Linked DNA regions of Homo sapiens: all the other regions are reported to be linked to region 3. The links are microRNA targets in miRTarBase. Many come from high-throughput screens and were not tested one by one. Region 3 holds a microRNA gene; each other region holds the end of a gene's coding sequence.

Region 1 (3,147 bases), not on the chromosome of region 3:
ACAAAAGGTGGGAGAGGTGGTGACCAAGAAGGTTTGTGACCACAGACTGTCCAGGAGATGAGAAAAGATCCCTCTTAGGCCACCAAGGATGCTTGGATTAGGTAACAAGTAGGCCAAGAACGGTCCTTCTGCAGGGGACACGGATGGCAGGTCTCATGAAGTAAGGTTTTGCTGGTTTATCCTATGCTGACCCAACCCAGTGTTCAAATAAAATTCTGAATAACTGTGCTCTGCAGCTTGGGAGATGTTTTATGCATTTAGACCCCAGAGCAGACATTAGAGATATTTTGAAAAGTAAAGGTAGTCTAGTTAGCAAAGTGAACTATCACAGAGGACTAGAGACAGCGATGCCCATGTACATTTCTATTTTTCTTTTGATGGGTTGATGGAGATGCACTCCTGGCTTTTGCAGTTATTTCTGCACATGCTGCATTCAACTAAAAGACCTGCTCAGGTCCCCAAATGTCTTTTTAAAGAAGACAAATCAGGGAGAGATAGGTGGGAAAATGGGTACATGTGGAAGAAGAAAAACATACAGGGTACTTTCTTGGGTTGTTTGACTGCTGTCTTTGTTCTCCAATAAAATGATAGGAGGCAGAAGTGAGAGAAAGTTGTTTCTTTCCCTGTGCGGTTGGTATCTTTCAAATGCATCTTGTCTAGCCTTCAGTGATTTTTCTTCTTCCTGCCACCTTTGCAGTTTTTGGTTCGGGTTTTCCTGATGTTCTAGCCCTGATCACAGACCCCCAGGGAACCACCCTCTTCCCACTGCCCCCAACACCAGTCTTCCCCCCTCTGCAGACCTGAATTACTTCAAGGGGAAGTCGATTAATGGCTTATGTTAATGAAAGAAGCTTTTCACTTAGTCTGAGCTCTGCGAGGGATCATTAGGAAGGGGAGGGGGAGGCAGGGGGGCCTCAGGGGAGTTAGGACATCTCTGAAAATAATGATCAGTGGAAACAAAAGCTTTCCCTTCCTGGAGGCCCCAAGCTATGGCTTGCCTGAAAATGCCTATAATAAGTAACAAGAATAAACCTCTATCGAGGCAGTTAAAAAAGGAATATTGTTTAAATATGGGATTTATTCCTGGCTTCTGGTCATTGGCTGCAAGTCTACAAGGAAGGTTCAGATTTCAAAGAAGAGGTGTAAAAAGGACGAGCCTGGGGGAAGGGGAGCCTGAGAGGCGAGAAGGTCATGTAGCTGACAGCGGGCCCGTGGGAATGTCCTGGCTGACCTCTTTCTTCCAAGCCCAGGCAGATTCCAGAGGTAAAATGAGCAGTCAAACAACCACAGGGAGATGGTCTGTCTGTGAGAGGGGCCCTCAGGAGTGCAGGCGGGCTGTGATTTTACAGGGAGCCAGGAGCGCATTGAGCAGTGGGCCAGCCCTGGGGAAGCTAGAGGGACAAACCCTCTTTGCTGATGCCAGCTGGGAAGCTGAATGTCAACTGCGGGCCAGGTGGGGTGGGGGTCCTGGCGGGCCAGTCCCACAGCAAAGAGGTACTGGAAAGAGGTACCATTTTGTATTTCCAAATGGCTCTGGGTGTGAATTTCTTCCTAATTTGCAATTTACAATTTAGCTATCCACTGGCAATCTCTAGACTAGAGACAGTGTGGGTAAGTGGCAGAATCAGGTAGGCAGACAGTTTTTAAGAAGCAGCTTTCTTTCCCTGAATCTGCTGTCTGGCAAGACCAAGGGCAGCTGAAGGAGTGGGAGTGGTAAATGGAGGCAGAAGCTCTCTCTCGGATCTCTGATTTTCAAACATTCTGAACCACATGCCACAGTCACAGATACTGTTACAGTTCTTTTTCCTCACACTTTTCAGAGGTTTAATTGGGCTTTCTGACAGAAATCTTGCTTATGCAGCACACTCAGATTTTTGCTGCTAATTGCAGAGCTTTTATTTTTCTTGTCAGCGGTCACCTTAATTGTCTTGCCCCAAAGAGCCCCACCCAGCCCTGTTTGGTGCCACATGGTTTTCTTTGAAAGGCTCTGCTATAACAGTGAGAATTACTGGGTGTCCTTTTCTAAGTAAACAGGAAATATCACTCTGTTAGAAAAAAAAAAAAAAAGAATCCCTCTTCTCAGCACAAATGCAATAATGTGCCGACTTATATTTCCTGTTAATGTTAAATTAGGAGCAGGATCTATTTCTTACACCAGCCCAGTCTTCTTAGCTTCTAAACTTTCAATGAGCAGAACCCCAGGGAAGCCTGGCTGCCTAGGGCATTTTAGAAATGCTTCCACTGATTTGCGGGAGGCAGTAGCATCACAGTTTGGAAAGATAACAATGCATTCAAACAAAACAAAACAAACAAACAACCTGTGCAAAATCACAAAGGGGCAAGATGATATGCTTCTAAATTTTAAGTCACAGCACGTGTTTATGTTCTGATACTTGATCACCTTTCTATATAGGAAAACTCTGAAGCCTTGAGTCAGGAAGGAGAATTGACCCAGGGCAGGAGGAAGAAACGCAGGAAGGATGGCTTTTTTTCCCATTACATCAGAACCTGGGTTCGTGTGTCAGGCAGGCACAGCCCAACGAGTCCTCCACACACGAGCACAGTAGAAGCCAGCAGGATGGGGATTGATTTGGTGATGCTGACCAGAGAGCCAAATATTAAGTTTCCCAGGACGGCTGCTGCCTTGCATAGCGCATTTAAGAAGCCAAAGCCTGTTGCCCTGCAAAGGAAAGAGACATGAACAAGGTTGAGAAAATGCCTCCCCATGATTCCAACTTTAGACCAAAAGATCCTAGATTTTCAATGATCTTCCCTCAGATTGTGTTGTATATCAGTGGAGCAAATCAATGCTTGTTAGCAAATCTGGGAGTAGAGAATCCTAGCTGTTGGTATTGTTCCTCCAGCCCTCTGTTGACTTTCTTACCATAGCTTCCATTGACTCTTACTCTGCCTGTAAGTCCCAATGTATTGTGAACAGAAAGAGAGAAAAAATTGTAGGGAGTACGAAACATCTCTAGTGGTTTAACGTTGTTGGAAGGAAGGGTCTTTTTCATTTTTATAGAGATTAGGTCTTGCTCGGTTGCCCAGGCTGGAGTGCAGTGGCATAGTAATAGTTCACTGCAGCCTCAAACTCCTGGGCTCAAGCAATCTTCCCACCTCAGCCTCCTGAGTAGCTAGGACTACAGG
Region 2 (3,147 bases), not on the chromosome of region 3:
CATTTTTTATTTTTAGTAGAAACGGGGTTTCGCCCTGTTGGCCAGGCTGGTCTCAAACCCCTGACCTCAGGTGATCCTCCCGCCTGGGCCTCCCAACCATGCCTGGCTAAAAGTGCCTCTTATTTATAGATGTGTTAGCAGGTCGAACCTTGGACAAATCTAAATTGGAAAATGATCTAATATTAAAGTAAACTGTATGTTTCAATGGAATATTACCTTTATATGTATCGCTAAGCCTATGTTTGCAGATAAGAAAAAGCACAGGTTTACTTTAAGAAAAAAAAAAAAAACAATGTTTATGGAAGCGAAATCTTGTGCTACAAAGCAACTACCCTGAAACTCACTGTTATTAATTTTTACCCACTTATTATCATAAAAAAACTAGTTCTCAGATTCTGCATACAGACAGCTTTATGTAAAATATATAAACATTTGTCCAAATTGGTACACAGATTGCATAAATATGGCAATTAAGATTGCATTTACAGATGTGCATGTACAATGCTGTGCAAATTATCACAATATTACAATTTCAGAAATTATTCAAATTGGTATCCAAGTAAAGCAATTAGTGAAAAAATACCCATGCAGAATTTAAATATCTCAGAACAAAATTTAAAATGTCTTCATTAAAAGTTCACACATTTAAAATAGTTTTATTCATTTTATTTGTATATGTCAAAATACATTTTTATTTCCAAAATAGTGGGTTTTGCAACTAGTTTCATGCAGAAACAAGGTCTGCTCAATACTACCAATAAAATCAATATAGCACAGTAGCTGTTCAGTTTTAGATACAAAGAATAAATAACCTAAATACAAAACACTAAAATATTAGAAACATGTATTTAATCATTCTTCACAGGCATCCAAACTTCACAAATATAAACCATAGCATGCCTAACTGTTGTGCAACCAGAACATGTTGCAGTCACTCAAACTGATCAGTTATCTGTATATTTTACCTCCACATAAGACCATGGAAATTCTCAATATTCAGACCTACCATTCATACAGTTCAAATATAACCAAAAATAAAACTCCCACAACTATCCTTGTACCTTTAAAATCAAGAATCCTGAGCTTGGTAGTAAGAGCATAACCTTATATCTTCATAAAACCAATCGAGAGAGAGAGGACTTAAAATCCTGCTTACCAAAACACCCTTCCCCAACCCCAAAGTAATCTAAAATAGGCAGTAGAACACAATGACCTTTTAAAATGAAGGGGTACAAATTCACATTTAATATAGTATACAATACAATCAATAATACAATCAGCTACTATAAGCTTTACAATGTACAATTTATTCAAATGGCTGAACTGTTCAGTGGTTAAGGAGACAGTTATGTGCCAGAAAGATGTAGTATTTTTTGCATGGTTTAATGAAAATATAAAAGCTATTTGTCCAAATAAAAGCCATCGTCACTATGTACTTGGTTTTGCGCTTTTTTTTCCTTAAAAAAAAAAAAAGGCCACTGAAATGTATAAAATGGTCTGAACATGATGGTGGTATCAAAGTCGATGCCTCTTCACATGGCAATAACAGTGCATTTAACATTAACTCACGGGTTAATTCTGCAAATGATTTCATAGCATTACTTTGGCTAGCACAACAGTTTTAGACAGCACTCAGATAAATATAGGTATGTGAAATGTAAAGCAATTATCTTATGCAACTTTAATTATGGTTGAGTACTATCAAGTGAAAACTGAAAATAAAAGCACTTTACAGTAGGAAACTTTTGTAAAGATAGGGCTCCACATAATGTGTAACTTTTAAAGTCTTTATATCACATTGTTAGCAAATTTTGTTTTTTAACACTATCATGGAGTAGCCTACTCTGCATTAGCAGACATTTGAAATAAGAAATAGTCAAGCATGCCATGTGGTGGTCTAAAAATCAAAACAATACACTTATTTGTATATACAGCATCACTCAGTACCTGCTAAAATGAATGTGAAGATTACAGAATCTAACATCTTATACTACAATAAAAAAAAAGTGACCAATGAAGCAGAAAATAGGAATTAAAAGATCTAACCTCAAATGACTTTAAAGCATTCATATAAGAAATAAATGCATATTGCACAAACAGTGAAAGCATATGTTCCACCAAGCAATTCAGTTCCAGGTGGGAGACAACACAGCATTAGCCTAATACATGACAATAATCACAGAAGAGCAAGTGTTCTTTTCTGTAATGAAAAAGCTGTGAAAACATAGAAGACTCTGCCACATGAAGAGTTTAGAAGGAAAAAATACAAACCCAAACTTAGATGAAAAGCCAAAAAATTTAAATATCGAAAAACTCGAAACTGTGGCACATCAAAAAATGTTGAGTAACTGTCTTCTGTGAGAGCTGAAAGTTTTTGTTGACACAAAAGTATTTATGTACAACTAAGGCTTACTGGTTAAATATCTGAGGCATATCTGGCCTTGAACACTTTCCTTATATGCTGGAGCTGTAAACAAGTTTTCTCAGTCATTAAAAAAAAATCTTCTCAGCAGCTGCATTAACATGAAACAATGGTCTTGATTAAAAAAAAAAAACAAAAAACAAACCAACAACAACAAAAACACCCCAGAAAATTAAACAAAATGAAACAAAAATTCTAGATAAGAGGGCATTTGGCAGGATATCCGAAAATGACAGTCTCCAAGGATTCTTCCCAGACTTCCAGTGACTGCCAATTATGGTCCACTGGGTTACTAATATGTGCAATTCCATTACTTGCTGCTTTTTTTTTTTTTATTTGGAAAGTTTGCTTATAACTCTGATCAAGGCCCCATTTTCATCCTTTAGCCTCTGGTTGTCTGCTTTTAGGTCTGGTAACATCTATAAAGAGAAAAATTGAAGATCAAGTTTTACCTTCAATATTAAAAGATAAAACATTATTCTTAATAAATGTTATATTTTCACCACAAAACACATGATCAAGCTTTGTCAGTTATATATATTTCTAGTATCTAAAACATGTATCAGGAAGAAGGAAAAAAACCACACCTGGATTTGTAAAGCTAATTAGTTTCATAAATGCTGGAATGAAAGGTTTATTCTCTCCAAATTTTCCATTGAAATTTACTAAATCACTTGATTTTATGACTCACAAGCACACCACATTCCAGCAGCCAAGACAAGCCT
Region 3 (3,147 bases):
TGCTTTTCTTAAACGGTAACCCTCTAAAAGGAAGCACTTTCTTTTCTTTCAGACAACAGAAAGCGCTTCCCTGTAGAGGGACACAGCCTGACATCTTCTTGCTGTGGCACCGTGGATTTTTTGTTGGAATCTTCCTTAACCAGGTTAAAATGGACTCGAAAAGAAAGATGCATTTATTTGCCCTGTTTTCTATTTGTGTGTTTTCTGGAATCCAGAATATAAACCCCTAAAAGGACAATCTCCAGTTCCTTCCTTCAAAGAATCAGCAGGTTAGCCTTGTTTATCAAGGGGCAATCCTCCTGAGTTTTGTCTGCAAGAGAAAGAGCAATACCTGCTAGACATACCTTATCTTTAACCAAGGGAACTGGGCTGGATTTCTAGAGAACAGCAATGGACGGAGAGCCAAGTGTTCACCTGAGTTTCAGTACAGGGACACACAGTCCCCATGCAAGCATCCAAAATGGAACATAACATACTGAAGAATATACATTGTCATAGACACAAACATTCTCCAGAGAGACCACAGGCTATACCATAAAAGCTCCCCAATAAAATTTGAGCAGAAACACACAAGTACAGGTGGGGCACGGTGGCTCATACCTCTAATCACAGCACTTTAGGAGGCCGAGGTGGGAGGATCACTTGAGTTCAGGAGTTCAAGACCAGCCCAGGCAACATGGAGAAACCATGTCTGTACAAAAAATACAAAAGTTAGCCAGGTGTGGTGGTGCATGCCTGTAGACAGCTATTCAGGAGGCTGAGGTGGGAGTTGGAGGTTGCAGTGAGCCGAGATTGCACCACTGCACTCCAGCCTGGGCGAAAGAGTAAGACTCTGTCTCAAAAATAAATAAAGGAAATTACAAAAATTAGCCGGGCATGGTAGCACATGCCTGTAATCCCAGTTGCTTGGGAGGCTGAGGCAGGAGAATCGCTTTTACCCAGGAGGCAGAGGTTGTAGTGAGCAGAGATCCTGACACTGCACTCCAGCCAGGGCCACAGAGCAAGACTCTGACCCAAAAAAGAGGGCCACTTGAACCCAAGAGATCTAGGTTGGAGAGGGACCACCACACTCCAGCCTGGGCAACAGACACCCTGTATTAAAAACAAAACAAAACAAACATGAAACACCAACATCATCCACGTCTGATTATAAGCATTCTCTGCAAATTTATTACCAAGATAAGCATCAACTTCAACGTTGCTTTTCTCAAAGAGTAATCCTCTAAAGAGAAGCGCTTTCTTTTCTTTTAGACAAGAGAAAGTGCTTCCCTCTAGAGGGTCACAGCATGAGATCTTCTTGCTCCAACACTCTGGGTTTTTTGTTGGAATTTTCCTTCACCCGGTTAAAATGGACACAAAAACAAAGATGCATTTATTGGCCCTGTTTGCATGTTTTCTGGAATCCAGAATATAAACCCCTAAAAGGACCATCTCCAGTTCCTTGCTTCAAAGGATCAGCAGGTTAGCTTTGTTCATCAAAGAGCAATCCTCCTGAGTTTTGTTCTCAAAGAGCAAAAGCAATGCCTCATAGACATATGTACCTTATATTTAACCAAGAGAACTGGGCTGGATTTCTAGAGAAGAGAAATGGATATTGAGCCAGGTGTTCACCAGAGTTCCAGCACAGGGACACACAGTCCCGATGGGAGCATCCAAAATGGAATCTACGATGTTAAAGAATATACATTGTTGTACACACAAACATCCTCCAGGGTAGATCACAGGCTAGGCCCTAAAAACTCCTCAATAAAATTTGAACAGAAACACACAACTACAAGTGGGGCACGGTGGCTCACACCTCTAATCCCAGCACATTAGGAGGCTGAAACTGAAGTATCACCTGAGCTCAGGTGTTCGAGACCAGTCTCGGCAACATGGTGTAAGCCCATGTGTATAAAAAATACAAAACGGAGCCAGGTGTGGTGGTGCATGCCTGTAGACACTAATTCAGCAGGCTTAGGTGGGAGGTAGAAGTCGCAGTGAGCTGAGAGAGATGGCACAACTGCACTCTAGACTGGGTGACAGAGCCAGACCTTATCCAAAAACAAATAAAACATACACTCACACACACACAAACAAACAAAAAAAACCCCAAAGTGATATAAGAGTATTCTCTTCATGTAGAAGAGTATTTTGCACGTATATGGTATTATATATATAAGAATATATAATGGCCGGGCGGGGTGGCTAATGCCTGCAATCCCAGCACTTTCGGAGGCCAAGGCGGGAAGATCACCAGAGGTCGGGAGTTCGAGACCAGCCTGACCAACATGGTGAAACCCTGTCTCTACTAAAAATACAAAAAATTAGCCAGGCGTGTGGTGCATGCCTGAAATCCTAGTTAGTCGGGTGGCTGAGGCAGGAGAATCACTTGAAACTGGGAGGCGGAGGTTGAAATAAGCGAAGATCGCACCACTGCACTCCAGCCTGGTGACAGAGTAAGACTCCATCTCAAAAAAAAAAAAAAAAAAAAGAAAAGAAAAAAGAAAGAAAAATGCAAGTATTAGCCAGGCGTGGTGTCAGGTACCTATAATCCCAGATACTCAGGAATCTGAGGCAGGAGAACGGCTTGAAACTGGGAGGTGGAGGTGGCAGTAAGCTGAGATCACGCCACTGCACTCCAGCCTGGGTCACAGAGTAAGACTCTATCCCAAAAGAGAGGACCATTTGAGCCCAAGAGAGCTAGGTTGGAAGTGCCACCACATTCCAGCCTGGGCAACAGAGATCCTGTCTTAGAAAAAAAAAAAAAACAGAACCCCACCTTCATCCAAGTCTGATGATAAGCATGCTCTGCAAATGTATTAGCAAGATCAGCATCAACTTCAATGCTGCTTTTCTCAAAGGGTAACCCTCTATAGGGAAGCGCGTTCTTTTCTTTCAGACAACAGAAAGCGCTTCCCTCTAGAGGGTCACAGCATGAGATCTTCTTGCTCCAGCACCCTGGGTTTTTTGTAGCAATTTTCCTTGACCAGGTTAAAATGAACACAAAAATAAAGATGCATTTACTGGCCCTGTTTGCATGTTTTCTGGAATCCAGAATATAAACCCCTGAAAGGACCATCTCCAGTTCCTTGTTTCAAAGGCTCAGCAGGTTAGCCTTGTTCATCAAGGGGCAATCCTCCTGAGTTTTGTCTCCAAAGAGAAAAA

Evidence for each region. Region 3 holds the annotated microRNA hsa-miR-518f-5p (CUCUAGAGGGAAGCACUUUCUC, at 1,256-1,277, opposite strand). A microRNA usually pairs through its seed, bases 2 to 8, with sites in the 3' UTR of a target mRNA and lowers its output. Matches are read on the target gene's strand: a 7mer-m8 pairs with bases 2 to 8, a 7mer-A1 pairs with bases 2 to 7 and ends in A, and an 8mer does both.
Region 1: the mRNA of SV2C is a reported target of hsa-miR-518f-5p. The part of its 3' UTR that is shown has no 7-base or 8-base seed match.
Region 2: miRTarBase lists PPP1R12A as a target of hsa-miR-518f-5p. Seed matches in the 3' UTR shown: 7mer-A1 at 2,616-2,622.

The regions. Positions count from the first base shown.
Region 1 is chr5:76,324,897-76,328,043 of GRCh38, reverse strand. SV2C (synaptic vesicle glycoprotein 2C) reads right to left here. Exons shown (of 13, transcript NM_014979.4): 13 at 1-2,680. The coding sequence ends at 2,497. Among named protein-coding and RNA genes, the nearest start is that of SV2C-AS2, 15 kb to the right of the region's middle. RefSeq lists an enhancer at 2,113-2,612.
Region 2 is chr12:79,773,175-79,776,321 of GRCh38, forward strand. It overlaps PPP1R12A (protein phosphatase 1 regulatory subunit 12A), which reads right to left. Exons shown (of 25, transcript NM_002480.3): 25 at 394-2,841. The coding sequence ends at 2,755. All of the region lies in intron 5 of PPP1R12A-AS2 (PPP1R12A antisense RNA 2), which reads left to right. Among named protein-coding and RNA genes, the nearest start is that of PAWR, 84 kb to the left of the region's middle.
Region 3 is chr19:53,698,160-53,701,306 of GRCh38, reverse strand. MIR518F (microRNA 518f) reads right to left here and starts at 1,292; the gene lies at 1,206-1,292. It overlaps MIR523 (microRNA 523), which reads right to left and starts at 2,922; the gene lies at 2,836-2,922. MIR520B (microRNA 520b) reads right to left here and starts at 80; the gene lies at 20-80. It overlaps LOC107985346 (a long non-coding RNA gene), which reads right to left and starts at 637. Exons shown (of 5, transcript XR_001753998.1): 1 at 601-637.